Linked DNA regions of Homo sapiens: all the other regions are reported to be linked to region 1. Evidence: microRNA targets listed by miRTarBase, many of them from high-throughput screens and not tested one by one. Region 1 holds a microRNA gene; each other region holds the end of a gene's coding sequence.

Evidence for each region. The annotated mature microRNA hsa-miR-107 reads AGCAGCAUUGUACAGGGCUAUCA and lies in region 1 at 1,569-1,591, shown strand. An mRNA with a match to its seed (bases 2 to 7 or 8) in the 3' UTR can be bound and repressed. Matches are read on the target gene's strand: a 7mer-m8 pairs with bases 2 to 8, a 7mer-A1 pairs with bases 2 to 7 and ends in A, and an 8mer does both.
Region 2: miRTarBase lists PAG1 as a target of hsa-miR-107. Seed matches in the 3' UTR shown: 7mer-m8 at 3,261-3,267 and 7mer-A1 at 3,111-3,117.
Region 3: the mRNA of EI24 is a reported target of hsa-miR-107. Seed matches in the 3' UTR shown: 7mer-A1 at 1,344-1,350.
Region 4: miRTarBase lists RUNX1T1 as a target of hsa-miR-107. Seed matches in the 3' UTR shown: 7mer-m8 at 2,378-2,384 and 7mer-A1 at 1,581-1,587.
Region 5: miRTarBase lists NINJ1 as a target of hsa-miR-107. The part of its 3' UTR that is shown has no 7-base or 8-base seed match.
Region 6: miRTarBase lists JAK1 as a target of hsa-miR-107. Seed matches in the 3' UTR shown: 7mer-A1 at 3,008-3,014.

What each region holds. Positions count from the first base shown.
Region 1 is chr10:89,590,257-89,594,346 of GRCh38, reverse strand. It overlaps MIR107 (microRNA 107), which reads left to right and starts at 1,520; the gene lies at 1,520-1,600. It overlaps PANK1 (pantothenate kinase 1), which reads left to right. Exons shown (of 7, transcript NM_148977.3): 4 at 358-534; 5 at 1,027-1,150.
Region 2 is chr8:80,973,185-80,977,274 of GRCh38, forward strand. It overlaps PAG1 (phosphoprotein membrane anchor with glycosphingolipid microdomains 1), which reads right to left. Exons shown (of 9, transcript NM_018440.4): 9 at 1-3,722. The coding sequence ends at 3,360. Among named protein-coding and RNA genes, the nearest start is that of ZNF704, 100 kb to the left of the region's middle.
Region 3 is chr11:125,583,191-125,587,280 of GRCh38, forward strand. It overlaps EI24 (EI24 autophagy associated transmembrane protein), which reads left to right. Exons shown (of 11, transcript NM_004879.5): 11 at 331-1,494. The coding sequence ends at 493. All of the region lies in intron 1 of STT3A-AS1 (STT3A antisense RNA 1), which reads right to left. Among named protein-coding and RNA genes, the nearest start is that of STT3A-AS1, 7.3 kb to the right of the region's middle.
Region 4 is chr8:91,956,632-91,960,718 of GRCh38, forward strand. It overlaps RUNX1T1 (RUNX1 partner transcriptional co-repressor 1), which reads right to left. Exons shown (of 12, transcript NM_175634.3): 12 at 1-3,886. The coding sequence ends at 3,611. Among named protein-coding and RNA genes, the nearest start is that of RUNX1T1, 140 kb to the right of the region's middle.
Region 5 is chr9:93,121,347-93,125,436 of GRCh38, forward strand. NINJ1 (ninjurin 1) reads right to left here. Exons shown (of 4, transcript NM_004148.4): 3 at 3,553-3,716; 4 at 150-884. The coding sequence ends at 3,562. Among named protein-coding and RNA genes, the nearest start is that of NINJ1, 11 kb to the right of the region's middle. RefSeq lists a silencer at 3,568-3,732.
Region 6 is chr1:64,830,870-64,834,959 of GRCh38, forward strand. JAK1 (Janus kinase 1) reads right to left here. Exons shown (of 25, transcript NM_002227.4): 25 at 2,360-3,788. The coding sequence ends at 3,693. It overlaps RAVER2 (ribonucleoprotein, PTB binding 2), which reads left to right. Exons shown (of 12, transcript NM_001366165.2): 12 at 1-2,363. The coding sequence ends at 116. Among named protein-coding and RNA genes, the nearest start is that of RAVER2, 88 kb to the left of the region's middle.

The DNA.
Region 1 (4,090 bases):
TTCAGACCACCCAAATAGAAGAGATCATGATTTGGCCCCATTTCATAGGTGGGAAGGCTGAACAAAGCACTCAGGTTAGTGGCTAGTTGAAGGTCTCACAACAGAAATCAGTGAGAGTCTTTCTTTGGTTTTGTTCTCAAATTTAGGGGCAAATTTTCCTTGATGTTTATTTTTAGTCTCTGCCCTCTTTTCATATCCAGTCTACCCTAAAGCTCTGTTGCACCCTAGCACTTTAATTCAAGTGCCCCTTTGTTCGTCTGCTTTTATTCACCCATATTAATAGTCTTGACGTAGTTGGGGACTTGGATGGGCATATCTTAAAGTAAAATTTAAAAATAAACCTTATTATTCCTTCAGTCTTGGAGGTGGAACATTCCTAGGCCTATGTTGCTTGCTGACTGGTTGTGAGACCTTTGAAGAAGCTCTGGAAATGGCAGCTAAAGGCGACAGCACCAATGTTGATAAACTGGTGAAGGACATTTACGGAGGAGACTATGAACGATTTGGCCTTCAAGGATCTGCTGTAGCATCAAGGTAGAGATTAAGTAGCTAGGAGCAGTAGTGATTAAACACAAGGCAGCCTCTCCACCCTGGCCATTCACTAAGTTGTTTTAAAATGTCAGTCCACCAGCCTGGTGCAGATACCTGTTGTATCAGAGCTCAGACTTGATCTCCTGCCCTTGATGAAGCACTGAGATGTTTAGCTCTTGATGCTTGTTCTTAAAATAAGGCAACTTTGAAAGAAGGTTCTAGAAAACTGCAATAGTTTCACCTGTTCCATTCTTGTCCAGATATCTAGAGGCATTAATTTTCCCCCCCCATTAATGGACATGCTACTTTGTCCCTATTAAGAAAAGGGCGGTCAGCCATGCATACTATAATTCTGTCTGCTTATAAACCATAGTAGCAAAATTGGATCACTTGAGTTTGAACAGTTACTCGTAGAGCCTTCCACAATACTTTGGTGGAAGGATGGGCCCTGCCTGAGGACGATTTTGAACACTCTCGCTGATATTTCCAACATAGCTTTGGCAACATGATGAGTAAAGAAAAGCGAGATTCCATCAGCAAGGAAGACCTCGCCCGGGCCACATTGGTCACCATCACCAACAACATTGGCTCCATTGCTCGGATGTGCGCGTTGAATGAGGTAAGGCCTTACTCAACCCGGTGAAAGCTGTGTGTCATTCATATACATCATCTTGGCAGTGCAACACCTGTTGACTCTTACACAACTACATATCCTTAGGAAAGCTTCCCTTTACTCTAGTCACACTTTACAGAACAGGAGGGGTGTGTGTTGGGGGAGGGGGAGGAATATATGCTTTATTTTTAAGAAGGCACTGGATGATAATGAATGATAAACCATTCACCTGTGGAAACAGGATACAATTACAACCCATGTCATAGTCTCTCTAACCATCATTATTGCCATGTGTCCACTGAAATGTGAGGAAAAGGTCTGAGCATCCTTGCACATAACTGCAGGTAAAATGCTCGACTTGCAATATTCGATATTCTCTCTGCTTTCAGCTTCTTTACAGTGTTGCCTTGTGGCATGGAGTTCAAGCAGCATTGTACAGGGCTATCAAAGCACAGAGAGCTTGCTACAGCCAAGGCCAGCCAGAGTCCCAGGCACAAAAAGGGGTGGAGCTGGTGACATACAAAGTTGTATTAACATGTTTTGAAGCATTGCAAGATTCGTTTGGAAAAAATTGAACCTTTTCTGAAATACAAGGTGTATAAAGTAGAACTCTTCACACTGAGGTATATTAGAAAGACAGGAAAGAGGAGTTGAGGCATGGAACAGGTCATAGGAGAGTATTAAAGAACCACAGTAGATCTGTAATGGAGTTTTTATAAATACAGCTTTTAATAGAGGTGACATACATACAGAAGAAGGCTCAAATTATAAGCTTACAGTTTAATTTACACACACAAGCAACCCTGTATAGCCATCACCCAGATCAAGAAATAGAACATTATAGGTACTCAGAAAGCCCCTTGAGCCCCCTCTCAGTTGAATAGTTGAATGTTAGTGTATGAGGCAGTCTTTATGATACATGGGTGTTAGCCCTGCCTTTGAGTTCTGGGTTGACAAAAAACATACTCTCCTTGCATAACACTGAACAGAGTATGTTACTGGCCTGCAGATCAGCGATATACCTTTTTGGAAGCCCTCAGTTCAGACGGAGTTTAAATGGGAGGCTGATACTCAGAGAAAAGAGCATTCCAGAGATGTTTTTTCAAAGTCCACTTGAGTCATGGGACTCAATGTAACAGAGTTTATTTCTTGACATTAACCTTTAAAGGGAATTTTTCCAAGTAATGAAACAAGCCCCAAGACCAATATGTGTGTAGTTGGCTGTACTCATGGGCTCTCAAAGGTCAGCTGGTAACAACCCTTGCCCCACAGAGCAATAGATGCCCTTTCCCCTACTTTCCGCAGAGCTGGCTTCTTGTGCTTTTTGCTGGAGTGAGCCAGCAGGTCAGCAGGTCTTTTCACAGGCATCAGAATCCCTTTGGGAGAGAGCAACTGACTTTACTTTTCACTTTTGATTTCAATTTCAATATTGTTGATTGGTGGAGTAGAGCGAGTGCCAATTTGAAAATGTAGCCATGTTATACACTGGTTTGAGCAACTATTTTATATGTTTCTGTGGGGCTGAATGAGTGAAGGGAATCACCAGTCGCCTTGGGGCCAAGGCTCTACCAGAGGGTGTCCAGTCAGTGCAGACTCCCAGTGGCCGCACCAGTGACTGGCAGTGTTGCATTTCCCATGAGAGCAGCCACCAAGTCCCTCAGTCCTTGCTTTGCTCTCTGGAGTCACTGATTTGAGAACCTTTGATTGCAGCCATTTCATTGAGGGACACCACGTTTACCAAATCTAAAACATTTTTGCTGTGATTCTTGAGATGCTGTGAAATGCTTCCCCATCAGTTATAAATTTTCTGATTCAAATTTTTGGATAGATAATACAAACACATAATACAGACTTCTAAGACATTAGAAGGATACACAAGGAAGTGAGTCACCATTTCCACTTCTGTCTCTCAGTGTTAACCTCAGTAGAGGCTGCCATTTTTTTTAGGGTTTTTTTGTTTGTTTTTATTGTACGTATTACAATATATCTTTGTTTATATTGTATGTAATGTAGGATACATTTATCTTTCCAAAGGTAGCAAACTCTATATAGCATTCTTTTTACAAAATAATAGCTTTATTGAAATATAATTATATGCTATACAATTCACCCTCCATATACTATTCTATATCTTGCTTTATCAGCTTTTTATTAAGAAAATTCATAAACATATGTAAAGGAGAGAGAACAGTATAAAGAACCTCCATTAATCCATCAGTGCAGATTCTGCAATCATTAAGGCTTCACAACACATGCTTTCTCTATATTTTCTTCTTCCTCCTCCCTCTGGTCCTCTCTCCTTCTTCCCTCTTTTTTGCTAAAATACTAGAAAACAAATCCCAGATATTATATCAATCTACCCTATATATTTTAATAAGCATCTCTAAAAATACTGCCTTTTGCTTTTTGACGTAATAACGCATCTTGAAATTGATCATATCAGTATATTTTAAATTGCTTCATTTTTAATGGCCATATAGCATTTTAACATATAGATATGCTGTTATTGATTTGTTCAATTTCCTAATGATATTTAGGTTTTTCCAGTCTTTTACTATTATTTAAAAATTCAGTGTATTTGTATACGGTATACACACATATATGTACACACATGTATATTATTTTGCCTACATGTGAGTATATCAATAGGATAAATTCCTAGAAGGGAACTTGCTGAGTCATCGGATATGTTGATTGTAATATTAACAGATATAAAGTTCCCTCCATAAAGGTGGTTCTAATTTACATTCCCACCAAGCAGGGTTATAACGGTACAAGTTTCTCCACAGAGTTATCAAACTTTTTGATTTTTTTCAATGTAATAGGTTAAAAATTATACCTTATTTTGGGATTAACTATTAATATTATTTACTCATTACTCTATTGGGTTGTTGGACTTTTTTTCTTGTTGATTTATGGAACTCTTTATTAATTAACAAATCCATT
Region 2 (4,090 bases), not on the chromosome of region 1:
ATGATGTAATTTATTCAGGACAGAAAAAAAAATATGTAGCCAACATTCTTGCAAGAATTACTTTCTTATGGAATTTAAGATTTCCTCAAATATTTTCTTTTCTATATAGCGTTTTGTTCTTGTGTAGTTATCTGCCTAGGATACAGACAGGATATTGAGACTATTTCAGAAAGTAGACACACTAAAAACATTTGACAAATTAAAAAAATTTTGCATAAAACAGGTTACCCTTTCCTGCTGACTATACTTAAGAAATACCAAAGTAGCATACAAAATGCTTCTAAACTTTCAAAATATCTGAATAAAAACAAAGATCCTACTTTTAACTGAGATAGATTTATAATTCTTACTTACAAGATAAAAAAATTTCCTAAAATTTATTTTTAAATTTCACATAACCTGCTATAATTCGCTGTAAAAAATGGATGTCAAAATAGAATTTTAAATATACAAATTGTTTTTGATAACTACCTTTCATACATTTTATTTAAACTGTAGCATTAGCTCAAGATGAAACTTTTTAAAAGAAACCATAGGCTTTTGTCCAACTCAAAGATTCAAGCCCAGATTCTGAACAAAGTAAATGTGATGAAATTTATGAAAAACTATACTGTACAGTCAAAACAGTGATGGTGCCTCAGTAAATAACTTCAGTAAAATATCCAGTGCTCCAAATAGCTGAGCCATCTTTCTAAGGTTCACTCTGCTTCTCTCCCCCAGCCCTCATGGCCTGTGCTACCATCTATTCTTTTAGCGTTTATGCTGGAGGGCCTTATAGTTCCTTTAAAAGTACACTGAAAATACTTTATATCACAGCTTATTCTAACCACTGGTTCTCAAATTAAAAGGTATATTTCAGTGCATATTTCATAGCCACATTGCAGAACTAATATTTGAAAACTCTTGGGGGAAATTTTGGTAACAAAATTGCAAAATGACATGATTATTTATGAGCTTTCTATAAAAAGTTTTTTTTTTTTTTTTTTTTTTACTTTAGAGATCATACCTACTTTCCTGCCTTTTTGATAAGTAAGGCATGAAATGAAACAAAAGTTTTGAGCTGTAAGGTGCCTATAAAGGATGTCACTACAGCATTCACAATGCTAGGTGTGTAAGATGACATGGCTGTTACCATGTACTAAAGAACCCCATCATGTGAGAGATCGCTCAAAGTCATTAACACAAAGCAGTGAAAATCATCCAGCAAAGCAGTGCTTATGAGAGACTAGAATTCAGAGAAATGCAAGGTACGAACTTCTCTCTAATCCAAGGGTATTCTGCTGTGATCTTCTAATCAGTGATGATTGTGCTTATGCACACGACATCTTCATGGGAGAGACCAGGCTGATTGCAAAATAATGACAACCAACCAGTTTACCTCAACATAGCTCACTCTGCAATGTCAGACATGCAGTGTAGAGCAGTCACAAAGTCAAGCCATGAATACAGGGATGGAAAAACATTCCAGTGAGCTGGTCTCTACAATTTTTAAGACACTTCATCCTCCCAATTATATTCTTTGTCATAAAGAGGAAAAACAGCAAGATTATTAAATCCAAAAAGTCACAGATGTCACAAGGGGATGAAATAATTTCCTCATTTTTTTTCTTTATCAGTGTAGGAAAAGCTGTCTTTCCATAGCCCACACTCATAATAGCACTTCAACTAGGCTCCTTTGAAAATGAAAAGTGAACAAGTTTCCTAATGCTGGCCTTATAAGATCTAAAGAGATGATTAAATTCAAACCAGGCTGAGCTCTTACTCTGAGCTATTTCAGCCACTGATGTTTGTAAAATATAGGAAGAAGATTCCAATAGGCAATTTGCATTGGCAAGCACTGGACTACAGAATTCATCACTGTTTTCTGAAAAAATATAATTAAACCTTAATGGAATTATGACACTTTTATGAGGTTTATAATTCACAGCCACCTCTCATCATATTTTGTTCTTCTTTCCATTTTTACCATTTCAAATATTGCAATATTGCCCACCATAAACCACTGAAAATGATTATTTATGTATATTCCATTTATTTCTCTAGGGGGTCTAGGTAATTTGAATCAGGAGCTCCAAGTACCATTTAAAAAGGTGAGTCTTTAAAAACCATCAGTGTTTTAAACACTTGATTAGAAAAAAGATAACAGCTCCTTGTAGTGATCTAGCTTATGTGCTTTATGGTATCTTTTCAAAAGGAGAGTATAAATCATTGTACATAAAATCAAAATAGCTAATATACATTTTTTTCTGGCACTTTTGAGAAATTAGGCATTGAACATAAAACATCTTATAAACTTACATAACAAAAATAAATGTTTACATTTTAATCTTAGATTACCTTAGGGTAGCAGTTAACTTATGAGATGCCACACTGTTGGTGTGGGCAGCGGAGACCATGGGAAATACACATTCATGTCCACAGCCCTTCAGCGATGGATGCATGGCTGCCGTCCAAATATGTGGTCTGTGTCCCAACATAAAGATTAAGGCTCTCTGTTTTGAAGGAATGAGTTCTGGGCTTAAACAAGTCTAGAAGTACCACAATACTCATGGAAAATACTGAAAAGATTCGGACGAGTTTTCAAACACTGGGGGAAACACGTTTTTGACTAGAAAAATAAAATAAAGCATCTAAAACTGACTTCAAGTACTTTGGGGAGAGGCTGCTGATATCGAATGCCAAAATAAGAAGGAACAAAGACAGAAGAGACTCCAGGGACGTCCCTCCCCATCCCTTCACCCGCAGGGTCCAGATCCCCAGGTGCTGATGCGCAACTCTTTGGGGAGGACTGGCGAGCTGGGCAGAAAGCAGCAGCCATGGTTTGTCACCATCCTAAAACACCTATATTGAGGGCAAAGGCCAAGCTTTGTGTGAAAATTTCCTTGGGATGAACCACAGGAATCTGGACATTTCAAGGGGGAAAAAGCCTTAAAGTCAGTAGCAGACAGAGAAAAGGAAAGAGAGGAAGAAAAACCTGCTTTTCTGAATGGCAGTACTTTAGGCCGGGGGCATTGTGGTCCTTGGTGAGTGCAGCTTTTCCATACAGCTTGGCTTTCCTCACTAATGAGATGAGACCACTGACAGCTGGGATCTTTTGTGGGTGGTGAGGGTGCAGCAGGGAGATGTGCTTGGGTGTACCTGTCCATCTGGCAGGCAGGGGCACACTCAGGTGCAGCCTAGTCCGTACCTCTCTGTCTCAGAAACTGAACAACTGGGAGAACAGTCGACAGGGCCTCTCCAACCATCTTCAGGTGACTAAAGCAGCATATGAAGTATAGGTTTGTGTCACTTCTTCTCTTCCACAGAAGAAACGTCTCCAGACACTGATCACAGGCTACCCAGGGTTGTCTTCTGGGTTGCTAGAGCCTGGTAATATCTCTGCCTTGCTGCAAGTCACTTATGCTCTCGTAGTCGTTCTCCTTTGGGACGAGACCGTGGTGGCCATTGGTCCCCAGGGTGGCCTTTTCTTCCTCTCTGTTGAGAGTCTGTATCGCTTCATAATCAGGCTCTGGCTCCTCGCTGGGCCTCCCTGCTGGTGGAAGTGTGCTGTTTGGAGTTTTTTCGAAGTCTTTAACAGTAGCATAGAGATCATTACAGGAGGAGGGTGACCTCTGTGGGTCCCCTTGAATGGAGGTGTAGGTGGACTCCGGAACTGTAAGCGACTGCCCCGATTTATTCACTAACTGTCCAGGTTTATTTACTGATGAGTACATAGCTGAGATCTAGGAGACAAAGGGAGAGTTGAATAAACTTCCAGCTGTGACTTCCCCCTCCCTCTTTTTAGTGACAAGCTACATACTGAGCACTCCTGGGTTTCTGTGTGTGTACTCCTTAAAGATTTGTTCTTTCTTATCTGTACTAATTATGGAGCACATTACTAGAGAATAATTACACACACTATCTTCAACTATGTTAACTAGATCAGTCATATTCCCTTAATTCCGTGAAAACCCAGTTCTCTTGGGTCTGCCGAGGAATTTGAGGAGAGGTGGAGTGGGAAGCTCCTGAAGGCCCCGGGGACCTGACCACAGCATGTGTTTTATTTCATTTCTTTATCAGAATGATATTTTGCCTGAAAAGGGGCTCCACT
Region 3 (4,090 bases), not on the chromosome of region 1:
ACCAGGTTCAAGCGATTCTCCTGCCTCAGCCTCCTGGGTAGCTGGGATTGCAGGCGCATGCTACCATGCCCTGCTAATTTTTTTCTCAAGTGATCCACCTGCTTCAGCCTCCCAAAGTGCTGGGATTACAGGTATGAGGCACCACGCCCGGCTCCAATGTATTCTTTAGTTGCCTGTTCCATCCATGTATCTAATATCTGTATTTCCTTGATCAAGTTTCATTTGTCTTGTCTTTCCCTGTGTAGTTTTAAATTTAATGTCAAGTTGTCAAACAACGGAAATAATTTTGAGTAACTGGGGAGCTAACAAGTTGGGTTTCTTGCCTTTTAGTCTCTTCCAGTTGCGCCTCTTCTCCTTGGTGGTCTTCTTAAGCAACAGACTCTTCCACAAGACAGTCTACCTGCAGTCGGCCCTGAGCAGCTCTACTTCTGCAGAGAAGTTCCCTTCACCGCATCCGTCGCCTGCCAAACTGAAGGCTACTGCAGGTCACTGAGTTGCCTGCCATCCAAAGGGGATGGGCGGGATTGGAAGAAGCTGTGGCAGCTCTTTTCCCTGTTCACCTCCCGCCTGCCAGGGAAGGCAGGACCCGCTCTGCCAAGGGCCCTCTGCGTATTCCCTTCTCTCTGAGGAATTGAAATTTTTGTCTCTGGTGCACGTAAGGCAGAATGTTCCCTGACACCAGTGTGTGGATTTTTAACATCACCGTGAGTCTGAAAGGACCACAGGTTTTTCTGCAGCTATTTTCTAGCATTTGCCAGTCCCTGTGCCTGGACTGATTGGAACACTTTGTTTTTCTCCCTGTGCCATTTACCCTTCCACCTTTCCATCCTGCCTTCTACCACCCTTGGATGAATGGATTTTGTAATTCTAGCTGTTGTATTTTGTGAATTTGTTAATTTTGTTGTTTTTCTGTGAAACACATACATTGGATATGGGAGGTAAAGGAGTGTCCCAGTTGCTCCTGGTCACTCCCTTTATAGCCATTACTGTCTTGTTTCTTGTAACTCAGGTTAGGTTTTGGTCTCTCTTGCTCCACTGCAAAAAAAAAAAAAAAAAAAAAAAAAAAAAAAAAGCCTGAAGAGATGAGATAGGAGGAAAGACCTCACAGCCAGATCTGCTGGGTTTTGAGGAGTGATTTTCTTTCTTCCCCTTGAAGGGGAAAAAGCTATTTTCATTGGTACATTTAAAGTCCCCCAACTATGGGGAGGTACCAATTCTGGACAAGTGCCACTACAACAACACTAAACCTGAACTTTTCAACTCCGTTGGTGGTGGGAGGCAGCGGGCAGAAATTTACTGTTGGCCACTGCCAGGTCTATTTCATATTTCAAAGGAATATTGGGTGCTGCATATAGGAACTGAAGGGGTCAATGTATTAAACCTGTGATTGGTTGTTTTCCTGTCATTTTGAGAGACTAAATGTGGGGGGCAGATGTCAAAATACCTGTACAATTTTAAAATGTCACAATTAAACATGAGCTGGTTTCCCACAAAGTGTCTAATGGTTGAATTTGCAAATCTTGATTTCGAGAAATGTATTCATGGAATATAAGACTTTGTCTTGGATAATTTAGTTACAGTTTTGAGAAATTAGCCCTGAAAAATGTTCCCTGAGAAAGCCTGGATTATATGATTATAATCACATTTATATTTGGTAGAAGAGTCAGATTATTACTTTTTCTAAAGTCTATATGTATATCGCTACTGTATATTCATGAAGGGAGAAAGACCCTCCTAGATATTGGTGTATTGAGTATTAATCGAGGGAAGCCGTTAAACATCTGGTTAACAGAGACCTTTACTATGTGCAAGATAAAATATGGAATTAAAAATTGTTGCTGGGGCCAGGCATGGTAACTGATGGCTGGGATTCCAGCACTTTGGCAGGGGCCAAGGCAGGAGGATCACTTGAGTCCAGGAGTGCGAGACCAGTCTGGGCAACATAGTAAAACCCCGTCTCTATTAACTATAAAATAGGTTAGGCCGGGCATGGTGGCTCATGCCTGTAATCCCAGCACTTTGGGAGGCTGGGGCAGGTGGATCACCTGAGGTTGGGAGTTCAAGACCAGCCTGGCCAGCATGGTGAAATCTCGTCTCTACTAAAAATACAAAAAATTAGCCGGGCGTGGTGGCACACACCTGTAATCCCAGCTGCTCAGAAGGCTGAGGCAGGAGAATTGCTTGAACCCAGGAGGCAGAGGTTGCAGTGAGCCGAGATCGTGCCATTGCACTCAAGCCTGGGCAAGAAGAGCAAAACTCCATCTCAAAAAAAAAAAAAGGTTAAAAAAAAATTGTTGCTGAGAGTTGTAAACCAAGTTTGAAGGTTTATGCGGTTGATGGAAGGAGGGTTTTTAAATGGTAGGCATCTTGGAAGTGAACACTTTCCAGCTTGGGCAGAAAAAATTGTAAAAGACATGGTTTAAAGTAAGGTTTACTTCCAACATTCTCCTATGACATCTCTGGTCATTTAACAATAGTATTGCAGACTACTTCCAGATTGCTATGGGTGTGGTTTGCAGAAGACTTCAGTATTTCATCAGCTTGTAAGTGATAAGTGATTGCCTTATTTAAGCTTAGTTTCTTAAAACTAAGTTTTAAAAGTAGGCTTAGTTATTTAAGCAGTCACATCTTTGCTTCCTGAAATTTATATTTGTACCATTTAGAAGCATCTCATAAACTATTGAAAAAAAAAATAGAAACATCTCAGTTTGGTTTAAAAGGGTGAAGGAGACTGGGCGTGGTGGCTCAGGCCTGTAATCCCAGCACTTTGGGAGGCTCAAGGCAGGTGGATGATGAGGTCAGGAATCCAAGACCAGCCTGGCCAACATGGTGAAACCCTGTCTCTACTAAAAATACAAAAATTAGCTGGGCATGGTGGTGTACACCTCTATTCCCAGCTACTCGGGAGGCTGAGGCAGGAGAATCGCTTGAACCTGGGAGGTGGAGGTTGCAGTAAGCCACGATCGCACCACTGCACACCAGCCTGGGTGACAGAGTGAGACTCTGTTTTGCGGGGGAAAAAAAGGGTGAGGGAAGTTGAGTGGATGAAGGTATATGATTTTTATCCCCAGCACTGTGCCTGGCTATAGAAAATGTGTAAAGGTTTAAATGACTGGAAGTGAGGAATCTCCAGAGTTTTATTAGCACAGTTGAGCAGCCAAGCCTTTTGTATAAAGGCTAGATTAGGCATATCTGTGATAAGAGAAATGTGACCATCTCAAATGAGTTATATACACAAAGCAGTGTAAATTTTTCCTGCCTTTCACGAGGGTATTGTCACTGAGAGCAGTGATTAGGAAATGGGTCAAAAAGAGACTATATTTTTGCCAAGTGCAGAATACCTGTTTGAGGCAGACTAATAATTAGTAACCAAAAACAAGGGAGCTCACAAAACTAAAAATGAAAATTTGTTTGTTTTAATCACAAAACCAGTAGGATCTGAGGAATTGTTCCCAGAAGCACTTTTCAAGGGATAGACATCACAGCTTGGACAGGTATATGTAATAGAAAACACAAGCCTTTTTATTCTATCTATAGAGCTGAGTTGTCTGCTATAGCAACTCTCAAAATTAGAAAGTAGATGCTTTAGATCTGAGTACGTTAAGTCTGCTAGAAACGTAAATGACACATTCATGTACTGATGTGTTAACTGCTCTGCACTTAATAAAAGGATAGCATCTATGAGAGAAAAGGCAACTACAGTTGTCCATTCACTGTCTCCTCATTTTCCACCCACAAATAGTACTTTATTTTCTGATTACAGCAGTAGTACGTTCATTCTGCTCCTTTATGTGTGTTTACCTCCATCATTGAGATTGCTCTGGTGAAGGTTACTGTTCATCAGTAGTGGGGTGGAATAGATAGTTTAGCAGTCATCTCACCTTTTATTCACATATTCTGGGCTGGGTGCAGTGGCTCACGCCTGTAATTCTAGCACTTTGGGAGGCCGAGGCGGGCGGATTATGGGGTCAGGAGATCGAGGCCATCCTGGCTAACATGGTGAAACCCCGTCTCTACTAAAAATACAAAAAATTAGCTGGGCGAGGTGGCACGCGCCTGTGGTCCCAGCTACTCAGGAGTCTGAGGCAGG
Region 4 (4,087 bases), not on the chromosome of region 1:
CAGACATAGTAGACTTAAAAGCTCAAGAGTATGCTGACAAAAGCATGATGCCTAGACCCCACCCCCCAGTGTTAGTCTACCATTAACTTGTGGTACATGTCTGAATTAAGTATTGCACAACAACTTTAATTTTTCACAATGTCGCAGAACCCAAAATAATATTTTAAAAAAATTACTTCAAATCTGCATTTCAACAGTCTCCAATTTTTTTTCTGTCCCTTGAGGAATTCGGACAACATGGAGTCGCTTTCTTTCCCTAAGTATTCCAGACGTAGGCATGCTTTGCATAAGTAAACCAGCCTTGAAATTTTTAAATCCCCAAGACATGCACCTACACATAAAAAAAAAAAAAATTTAAGAAAAAAAAAAGACAGGTGGCCCTGTCACACACAGTCTCATGACAGAGAAAAAGAGAAAGAGAAAAGAGTAAGAGACAGAGATAAGAGCTAGAGGACGCCCTATTCCTATCAGCGACCACCATTCAATTCTATCCAATGAAGATAACTTTTTCTTAATGTGTTATACCTACAAATTATATTCTCACATAGCCTGTATATAAGTGACAAGCAAAAAAGGAAAGTAACAAAAGTTTTCTTTTCTTTCTCTTCTTTAGGTTTATGAGGTCTGCATTGTTACCAAGAAGTGATATGGTTTGCAGCTGTATGAGCTTAACTTTTGGTATCCTGGTTCTTTTGTGCCCATTTGGTTTGACTAGACCAGTTTTTGTTAGCTACTGGTGCAATATACATGCTGTCAGAGGTAGAGTGAAACTTTTTGCCACTGAGGAGAATGTAGCAAAACAGGAGGAGAGGAAGAGGAGGAAGAGGGGAAGGAGGAAGAGGAATCAGAGATAGAGCTCAGAGTTAGGGATTTTTTTTTGTATTTGTTTTCACTCAGGGTGCCCTGAATTAAAAAGTAATGAGACGTACTGTACTAATCCTTATTTTACACACTAGTGTTAAGAATAACAGTGCTGTTTCACATACATCACAGCTTCTAGAGATAAAGACGTGTGGGTATGACATACCTCATTTTTGGGATTATTTAACCCTTCGTAGCCTAGAACATATAATAGCTCTGTAAGAAAGGACTGTCCAGTGTCACAAGCAGACTAGAAAGCAGAGTGAGGTCAAAGGATTCTGGGAGCACCATGATAAAATATAACCCATTCAGAGCCTGGTTATGTGCTTTCATTTCACTTTAAGCAGGTGTGCTGGCAGATGGACTTCCAACATGTAGATAGATGTATTTATTTGCTCATCAGAACTTTCTAAACTAAAAAGTCATTTAAAAAAAATAACACCACCCAAACAAAATTAAAACCAACTTGTATATGAAAATACAGGGAAGAAATGCTTTTAAAAATGTTAGATTTAAGAGACTTAAAGCAAACCTTAGGATTGCCTCTATGCAGATACTTAAAAGCCACTTAAAACTGTTTCCAAGGCCTACATTTAACCCTCCCCCCACCCCCCGCCCCAAAGCTAATGGATTGTTTTTGATTTTAAAGAAATGCCTGGTGTATATGTATTTGGAGAAGTGTCTTCCCAGCCTTGTAAACTTTGGTTGTCTACACAGCCTGCAGCACTGCTGACTTTCCTAAAGCACACAACCACATCCTGGGCTACTGTTTTCAAAACTAACAAGTAGTTCTGGTCTGGACCCTGGACAACGAAGGGTTAATGGATTCATACTATACCTTGCTGAACATGTTTAACCTGCTGATCATTTGGAAAGTAGTACTGGTGCTTTTCAAAATTCCGATTTTGGTCCATCAGATCAGTCTTTGGCTGACTTCCCTTTTTGTAAGAATACTGTATAACCTGGCATTCAGCAGTGTTAAAGCTGTCAATCTACACCTCAGCATTTGGAGCTCTAATGATTTTTACTTTTGTAAAATTAGAAATACTTAAACGACCTTACAGCAATATGCATGCACTGTCCTTTTTTTTTAAAGTAGGATATCTTGTTATTTTATTTTTTTAAAAAAGTCCCTAATAATGATTTAAAAAAAAAAAAAAGAAAAATTCCACGACTACTCTATGCTACAGCTAAACTTGATGAAATGGCTCTAGCATATTTAAAAAGAATTTGCTCAAAAAAAAAAAAAAAAAAACAAAAAGCATGCCTAGGGAGTCATTGTGACAGTGCAAAATACATTTATGTACATCCCTCTTACAAAAACACCAATATGTTAGCATTCCGTGAAGCATGCTGGTTTTCAGGAAAAAAAAAAATCCTATAAGAGAGTGAAATAGCAGCTCCGAAAGATAGCTTTTCTTCTTTTCTTTTCTTGAGGACAACCAAAAAGAGTCTTTTTTTCCTTTTTTTTTTTTTAACTACTAGAGAAATATCACTAATACATACAGATATAAAAGCAGCATAGAAAGATACAGGTTTCTCACCAACTAGGAATAAAGAGACTAAATGTGGGCATATGGTTAAACTACAATGCATCTTCACATTTGTCCAACACATTTACAAGAAAAACACCATTGGGAAACCTCACAGGACAGAAGTGTTTTAACACCAAGAGAACTACTAGTTTTTAATTAAAAATCCAAACAGGGTGGGGTTGAAAAATTTTGGAAAGGGGCTGGAGCTGAAGCCACCATTTTTAAAATTATTTTTTTCAATATAAAATGAATGAGCTGGAATAGACCCAATGTCTTACTCTGTGGAACCTTGCAAAAGTGAAGAAACGTTGAAGGGTTATTTAGGGCAGCTGGCTGATGTCAAAACTGCCAGAATGCTAATTAACTGCAGGCTGAGTCTCTTACTTGTGTGTGTGTGTGTGTGTGTGTGTGTGTGTGTGTGTGTGTGTGTGTGTGTGTGTATATGTGCGTGTGTGTGTGTGTATATATATATATATATATATATATATGGAGCCTTTTGTATTATGGCATTTTTTTTTCTTGCTGCTGTATTCATACATCCCATTGCAAATCATCTTTCATTTTTCATTCTGTTGACCTGGATATTATTATTTCTTTTCAGAAACAGGAAAAAAACCGAACATCTGTGTCTCCTTCCAATCTGCTGCACATCTGCGCGTTTTGTAGCGGGTCTTCAAAGTTCAGTTAGCAACCCACGGACGCCATTCATCTTCTTGTTAAAATGTCTACTGCTGTATCCAATGCTCATGCCCTTGAGGGTTTTCCTCTTTTTTTTTTTTCCATTATTGTATATAAAGAACATTGTGACTTTTAATATTAGCATTTTTGCTTTCAACAGCAATTAGCAATCTCTTGGTTTGCTGTTTGGTAAAGCATCGGTTAATGAGGTCATCTAGTTTAAAATCCCAGCTACTTGAAAATAACAGGGAGGAGGTCAAATCTATCATTTCATGTTATATTCTCTGCTCTCTTTTCAGTTCTCTAAAGAAAAGATATCTTTGTTATCCACAATAAGTCATTACGACCCGTTACTGGCCCTCTGTGTTTTACTACCACCTCAAGATACAGTTAGGTTCTCTCTTGCTGAAGTACTGAAATAGGATAATTCATCTAATAAACAAACAAACAAAAAAAACAACTTTGAGCATCTGAGGATGAGGAATTGGTTTCGCGTTGGTTGTGTTGTCTTTCCTCCGACAGTTCTGAGTTCACGTCTAGCGAGGGGTTGTCTCTATGGTGGAAGGGGTTCCCGGGGTGGTTGACCTCGGAGTGGCTGCTGGTGGTGTGTCCATCGGGCTCCCAGCCCCGCTGTTGGGCGTGACAGAGGAGCTGACTGCAGGTGTGTCTCCCTGCTGCTGGGCCTGCAGGGTCTGTCCACAGATGTGATGGTGCTTCTCCCAGTCTTTGTGCTGGCAAAATGAGCCACAGTATCGGGCTGTGTTACAGCCACTGCAGGTTTCACTCGCTTTACGGCCACAATTCCAGCAACTCTAAAGGAGAAGGCAGAAGAAAGCAAGATCCCAAGTTAATACACTGTTAAGACAATAGTCTGACAAATATGTTAGGCATCACTGTAGCCTTATTTTCAAGAACTATACAGTCAGGATGAAAAATCCAGGTGTTCACGTATGGATACAAACACTAAACACAGAAGATGCAGGTTTTGATGGGATGGTTGTCCAAACTGCTCT
Region 5 (4,090 bases), not on the chromosome of region 1:
ATGTCAGGAGCCAAAGAGCTCCCCAAGCCAAGATTCTGGAGAAGGCGGCCCTGGCCAGAACCGTGTGCTTCTGACGCCCCTGCAGGGCAGCTGGAAAGGGGACAGGGAAGCCAAGGCCGGTCCAGCCCCGGGAACAGGGAGATGGCATGTGGAGCCTGACAAAGAGCGTGGGCTTTATTGTTCATTCATGATTAGAAAAGTGGGTGCTGGGACCCCCGTGGAGGGGGTTGGGCTCTGCCCGGTCACTGCTGGTGCAGGGTATATACAAGGTCTACGGCCCTCACAGGCCTGACTGGCTCCCTCTTGATGGCCACCAAGCCCAGGCACTTAAGACCAGAGCCAGTGGCCATCCGTAGGGCCAAAGGCAGTTCTGGCTGTGCAGGGTCCCTGGGTTAGGAAGTGGACAGAGGCTGGGGTCACCAGGGCAACCCGGACAGGGCCCACGGGAGGCAGGGACGCTGGTGCTTTGGGAGAGGGAGAGACATCTCCTTGTCCTTCTGGAATGTCCTGAGACAGAGGCTGGCCCTGGTCACTCATCCAGCCCATCCACGGACCTGCTGTGTGTCCTTGAGTGGGTCGAGACCCTTCTCTGGGCACAGGTCTCTGCAGCTGTCCAGTTCTGACCCTCTGGGCTATTGTGGCCAGCCCCCATGTGCCAGGAGGGAGCTGCCTCCTGGGAACAGCTGCTGAGAGACAAGAGTGGCCTCCTGCGTGGTGCTTGGCCGCAGTCAGAGCAAGGGCTGGTCCGGGGACATGGTGCAGATGAGGCCAGCCTGGGCTCTGGCAGTCTGGGTAGTGCCATGTGCAGGGAGGTGGACACCTCACAGGTATGGCGACTCCTGGGGTCGGGCAGCTGAGTTGCAGGGCAGGCAACATCCAGGGTCCTGGAAAGGAGACAGAGGAGAGGCTCTGAGCCTGGAAGGAGGGAGAGGAGAGGCTCTGAGCCTGGAAGGAGGGAGAGGAGAGGGTCTGAGCCTGGAAGGAGGGAGAGGAGAGGGTCTGAGCCTGGAAGGAGGGAGAGGAGAGGGTCTGAGCCTGGAAGGAGGAAGAGGAGAGGGTCTGAGCCTGGGAAGGGGGGAGAGGAGAGGCTCTGAGCCTGGAAGGAGGGAGAGGAGAGGCTCTGAGCCTGGAAGGAGGGAGAGGAGAGGCTCTGAGCCAGGCTGTGACAAGCCCCGAGTGTCAGGGCCATTTGCACACCCGGACTCAGGAAGGAGAAGAGCCTGATTCTGACATGAGAGGTGTCAAAGTACTCCATGCCTCAGTTTCCCCTCTGAAAATGGAATGAATATAGCATGGCTGGGTTACTGCCAGGACTTAGAGGCCTGGCCCAGCATGGGGGGCTCGGGTTGGGCAGCTGTGACCATAGCCACCCACGAAGCCTGAGACCTCTCTGACTGCTCCACGCAGGACACACAGCAGCTTTGGCCTCCGAGCCTCTGAGGACAGCTTTAAGGTCCACTGCTGGGTCCCCACGTGGCCCACAGACGCAGCACCCTCTTCCCGGCAGGCAGATAACTCATGCTTGGGAGAGTTAGGGACTGCATTCAGCACACACAGCAGGTGATTAATAAATGGCCTGGCCACATGCCCAAGCCAGGGAGCAGCTGACATCTAGGTGTTCTGGAAGAGGACAACTTAACTACAAACTGGAGGCAGCATCTGGACAGTGACTCGGACCCCACATGGGGCCGCCCAGATCCAGGTCCTTTCAGGAGGGTGACTTCAGGCTCCACGGCCGGGACATTGGGGGCTGGCGTGATCCCACTGGGGGAATGGCCTTGGGTGTGGTAGGGGAGCTTGAGAGGCCATGGGCCACTACGAGCAGCGGTCACTCGTTGGCCCCCGTGTGGGGAGGGGTGAGGCCAGGTGGATGCAGGGTGCTCCCAACCCAGCTGCTGGCCCCAGCGCCCCACCTCATCCTCACTATGCCCTCTTGGGGAATTTTTTTTTTTTCCCGAGATGGAGTCTCATACTGTTGCCCAGGCTGGAGTGCAATGGCGTGATCTCAGTTCACTGCAATCTCCACCTTCCAGGTTCAAGCGATTCTCCTGCCTCACCCTCCTGAGTAGCTGGGATTACAGGCATGCGCCATCACGCCTGGCTAATTTTGTATTTTTAGCAGAGACACGGTATCTCCATGTTGGTCAGGCTGGTCTCAAGCTCCCGACCTCAGGTGATCCGCTTGCCTCAGCCACCCAAAGTGCTGGGATTACAGGTGTGAGCCACCGTGCCTGGCCTGGGGAAATTTTTATATATCCTTGACACACAGGCGCTCTGCCCCAAGAGCACTGCTCCTGTCTACTCTGCCATGGGCCACCACTGGTGGAGAGATGGCCACCTGCCAGGAGTGCCCACCCCTCCCTTAGCAACTCACCTCCACCTCTGCTACAAACCGGAGGGGTGACCCCTAGGCCTAAGGTCGCGGGGACTGTGGTGTGTGGCCCTGGCCTGGCTGCATGGACTGTAGTGTGTGCACCATGTGGCCCTGGCCATGGCTGCATCCCAGGCCTTCCTGTGGATCCTGCTCCCAGGCTGTGTCACTGGGCAGACGCTCACCCTCTCTGAGCAAGGACACAGGGAGAGGCTGTATGTGGTGTGAGAAGTCTTCCTACACTGGGTGCCTCGTCCTGTAGAGACAGCCTCAGTCTGCATCCTGCACACAGCCAGGGTCCAGCCTAAGGCAGGCAGCTAACAGATTCTGCGAGGCCCGGCAAGGGGCAGACTTGAAGAGTCACAAGGGCTCCACGTGACAAGATCCTGAATCCCACCGTCCTGGTCAGAGTGGCACAGTGAGGTGGGCATGTCAGGCAGGCGGTCATACCAAGGTCCCTTTTTCTCAGACGAGGGCTGGGAGGAAGCTTCACCTGCTAAGTGGAGCTGATAAGGGGTGCAGAGCCCCTGACTTATCAAGAGAAGCCGGAAATCTTTGGGTTTTGGGTGTTTTTTGAGACAGAGTCTCACTCTGTCGCTCAGGCTGGAGTGCAGTAGTACGATCTTAGCTCACTGCAACCTCTGCCTCCTGGGTTCAAGCGATTCTCCTGCCTCAGCCTCCTGAGTAGCTGGGACTACAGGGATGTGCCACCATGCCTGGCCACTTTTTGTATTTTTAGTAGAGACGGGGTTTCACCCTGTTGGCGAGGCTGGTCTCGAACTCCTGACCTCAAGTGATCTGCCCGCCTCAGCCTCCCAAAGTGCTGGGATTACCGGCATGAGCCACCGCGCCTGACCCAGAAATCTTTTTTTTTTTATCGGACAGACATTCTGAATGTATAGAAATCTTACGTTTAAGTGAGTTCTCCAGGATGTTCAAATGGTGGCTCCTACACACATTCCATCTAAACACTGTGACCACAGGACCCCAGGTGGCCAGCACCAGTGGCAGGGCTGGCCTCAAGGCAGTGGCCAGGCATTGGCCTTGTAGGTGTGGACGAGGATGCCCATGGCCTAGGAAGGTGTCCAAGGCTGGCCGGCCAGGGACTCACCACACTGCAAGAGCCTCCAACAGCGAGCAACCCCAGGACTGCAGGCCTCGCGCCCCATCTCCCAGCTCACCTGGGTGTCCTACTGCTGGGGTGCCATGTCCATCAAGGGCTTCTGGACCCCGAAGGCCGTGATGAAGATGTTGACTACCACGATGATGAACACCAGGCCCGTGGCCAGGTTGTTGAGGAAGTCCAGCTTGGCGTGCTTGGCCGGGTTGTTAAGGTCGTACTTGACTGTGGGCGAGAGAGGAGTGGATGGTGCCAAGGGCAGCCCAGACGCAGCGCCCCAGCCTGGGACAGTGGAAGGGGACCCACCCCAGCGGTCAAGCTGTCCTGGGACATTACAGGGCTCTCAGTCGCATTTAGGATGAGTTTTGTCGCCCAGAGAAAAATACATCTGTTTTGCTGAAACATGGACAACAGCGCCCCTGGCTTGGGCAACCCCACGGTCTATGACCCCACCTTCTGTAGCCCCCATATTTTCCTTATACGAATTGAAGCTATGGACGTCAACCAAAGGCCAGGTTTGGGCAAATGCACTGAGCCCTTTGCGTGCCTTAATCTAGTGATTCCTGCCACAAGCTGCAGTTCTATTATGATGCCTGTTT
Region 6 (4,090 bases), not on the chromosome of region 1:
CATCATATCTCATCTCTGCCCCAGAAGGTGGTTCAGTGGAATGTGTTGACCAGCATTCTCAGGGCACAGGAGCATATTACATGGAAACTTACTTAAAAAAGAAGCGAGTATACTGAGTTAAGCTCTCTCCTAATAACCCCCTAAGGTTCTCTGCAGTATCTCTGCTGTTCATCGCTGCCTTAACTTCATTCAAACTAGCCATATCCTTTAAATACGGGTTTATAGTTTCCCAGAAGGAACTGTGTTGTGCAGCAGGCAGAAATGCCAAATAAAAAATAGCAATAAGAAGAGACATCAATTGAGGACATTTTCCACTAGAGTCAGATGCATCTTAATCAGTGTGCTAACTTACAATCCATTGGAGAAACTAACAATGTTCCAATATTCCTTGATTTAGGACTGGGAATAATTCTGACACCATATATAAAAGAAGTTTGAAGCAATAAATGGGAAACAGTGTTGTTTCCTGAGCCTTAGAAGAATGAGTTTCTTATAAGCCAATGTGCATTTCAATTTACTTTCCCTAGAAGTAATTGCATTTATAGATTTTTAGGACTTTTCCTAGAACTACAAGGGTGCAAGTACCAAATGTGCTGATGGTAATATTATAAAGATGCTCTACATGCACACTCAATTACGCCCACACCAGCCATGCAAAATTAAACCCGGTAAGAGAGTGACAGTGATATCCAAGGTATCCACTACTACCGATGCTTTAAGATGTTGTTTACCATTTATACCTTCTGTGAAAAATAGAAGGTATTTTAAGAAAAGTAACTTTGGTGATCTAATAAAAGGGTTTGGCAAACTACACCCTGGGTCCACATTTGGTCTACCACCCGCTTTTGTGCTGCCTGCAAGCTAAGACTAATGTTTACATTTTTAAATGGTTGGAGGAAAAAAGAAAACTTATGACATGAAATTTATATGAAATTCAGATTTCAGTGTCCATAAATAAACTTTTATTGGGACGTTGCCATGCTCATTCATTTACGTGTTGTCTGTGGCACTCTTACGCTACAAGGGCAGAACTGATTAGCTTCAACAGAGACTGTATGGCCTACAAAGACCATATGGCCTAAAATTTCAAGTATCTGGCCATTTATATATAGTTTGCTGATCCCTGATCTAATAGCACTAATTCTAATAGCAACTATTCCTTTCAATTCACCTAAAGACAGACCTTTAGCCTTTAGACAGACTTGTAAGTGGAAAGGAACATGGGTTTCTGTGCTCATTTCATAGCGTAGACTAGTAATGATCTAATGACTAGAATGGGGCCTATTTTGATCACTAAATGCCCTATTATTTCCACAATATAGTATAGTAAAGCAGTCAATACTGCACTTTCTGATGGAGTCTTAAGGAGTCACAGTATTTATAACCATTTTGAGCTAATAAGCTATACCTCACTCTCTGCTTTCTCTCTCACTCTTTTTGATAGTGTGTTAGGGTGAAAAATCAGTTATTTAACCCAATTTACTTGTGAAAGAAGTTTTATCTTTATGGACTATGATGACTTTTGACATCACCATTTCTTGAAGACCTTGGTATTAAATGCATGAGAAACCTTTTGCCATCTAGAAATTTCTAAGTTTGTTTATGTTATAAGACTGTAATTAATTGATAGGGAATTTGGGATCTCAATCCGGGGCTTTTTGAAATCAGATCATTAAATATCTCGTCACTTTGGGGACTTGTTATTTTTAACTATGATGTGGATATCCTGTTTTAATTATGAAGTCTAGAATTGGTACATATGTTGTATGCTTTGTAAAGAATTTCACTTGGTCTAATTTATTGCATATACTAGCTTCTGTTGGAAAATGACTGACAGCTAGAAAGTTTAAGGTAATTTCTAAGTATACTACCTATAAGTAACTGATAAGAATTAGGCATCATTCAGTGATATAGCAGATGACTAATGGGTTTTTCAGGCCCTGCACTTCTCTTTCCCATTTTCCTGTTGCATTCAGCCTCTTCAATGCTTAGTCACACCTCCACTATAGTACAAACAAACAAACAAACAGAAGAAAGGAAAGATGGTGAATTTTGCAACAGAGCTGCAAAAAGTCAGTCAGTCAAAGCAGGAAGAGGTTGAAGGAACTAAAACAAACAAACAAAGGTGTCTGGACTACAGCACAGTGGACATGCCATCCATACTGGCCTGTGCCCCGTTATCAATCACTGGGCACAACAGTGAAGAAGTGCAAATCAAGTGGTGTTTGTTTGTTTGTTAGTAGTAAGGACCGTAACCCACCCCTTCCTCCCCCCAAAACTATACTGTTATTTTTCTATGTAAGCAAATTGTTTGAAATGCTTTGAAAATGAAATCTTAATATTAAAAGGCATATGCATGTAAAGTCTTTAGTATATTTATTTGTATAAAGAGTAAACAAAGTGCATATAGAGTGGCCACAGGTTTGACACAGAGACCTTGGTGATGTAGGCTATGAACAAATTTAAATGGCAACTTCATTGCTGCCACTGAACCAATCCTGAATTTGGGCTCAACAGGTGAAAAGTAACAATATCAAACGAATACTAAACAGCATAACAAAAAGATTTTCAGACTCTTGGTCATAAAGACCGTAATCGTTCACATTGAATCAATGACTAAACATTTTTGATTACCCAGCTACCTCCAAGCAAACTGAAAACTGTCTAGTGGATCCTGAAGTCCATAGTGCCTCTAGCCGGGTCTTTCAAGTGTTGCACCACAGGGTGATGATTGATGGTAAAAACAGGGATCAACCCTTGTAGATCGGTGGTAAGTATGGAAACCCTCTAAGAACAGTGCAGCGTATGTGGTATTCAGACTGGTTGCATACAGCATTCAAAACCAGTGCTGGAATAGCTTGCCCCAAAGTGGTAGAGTTATAAAAGGATATACATTGACGTTTCTTAAAAGCATGTGTAATAGCATCCAGGTTCTGGGAATGAGTTCTGATTAAAGGTATACTGCTTAGGAAAGCACTGGCACAGGCTTAGTTCTTGAGAATTAACATGCAGCAAATTATCTATTCCACAGCTATCCCCCCATGTAGAACCAGCTTTCTCAAAAATGGGTGCTAGTGATCACCCAAAGGAACAGGAGCTAAGCCACTGGAGAAACAAAGTTTAAGTCCTACTGGTGAGAGAATACAGTCATTTTTGTACAGAAACAATATATACTACCTGGTATCTAATATTTTAAGAATGCATGGTCTAGTACTGTATAGATACTGAAATTTGAGGGCTAAGTCCATCAATCTTTCTTTATCTATGATTAATGTGCCAGCAAAACATTTCAGATCAGCTGGCAGCAGGGAAAAGCAATCATCTTCAGATATTATTTTGGTCAACTCCTCGTTTTCAAAAATCCCCTTTTGGTAATGCAGTTGTGATGGTGAACTAGCCAGATGAAATGGTGGTATATTCTTTCCACAAGGAGGAGTGCTTAAGTGCTTTCAAATATTTTGGTTGTCATTATGTGTCACTAAGTTACTGGTACCAAATTTAAAGAGGAAGTCCTTACACATATTAAGCACTACAGTGTGCCTTATACATGTATATGTACTGAAGTATGAGTTCAGTGACTTTTTGGACAGAACACAAACTTCTTTCATTAGAAATTTTTAAAAAATGACTTGGGCATTTGTTGCAGGAGAAGGACTTGATAATCTGTGGAATTTAAATGTTATTCATGCTTCTTATTTTAAAAGTGCTTCAAATCCTTCAATAAGGTTCTGAAAGCTTGTCCGATTGGATGGTTGGAATTCCCAGCATTTCCTCATAAGTTGATAAACCTGTAAAAAGAAAGAAGTAACAACAGTAAAAATGTTAGATCTGGGAACTTTAAAAAATAACAGAAATATCAAGAGTAAGAAAATAATTTTGGAAATGCAATGACTTTTCCTTAAAGACTAGAAAAACAAGAGTATTTGAATAGTTTAAAACACAGAAAATGGGATACAACTCTAGTTCATAAATAATATTTTAACATTTGAGAAGCTCAAGGGTTGACTGGCTGCAATAAAATCCAGGTCATTCCTGTAAACCAGTTAGAGGGTGAAGCAGAATCTCAGTTCAGACTTGAACTTTCCAGACT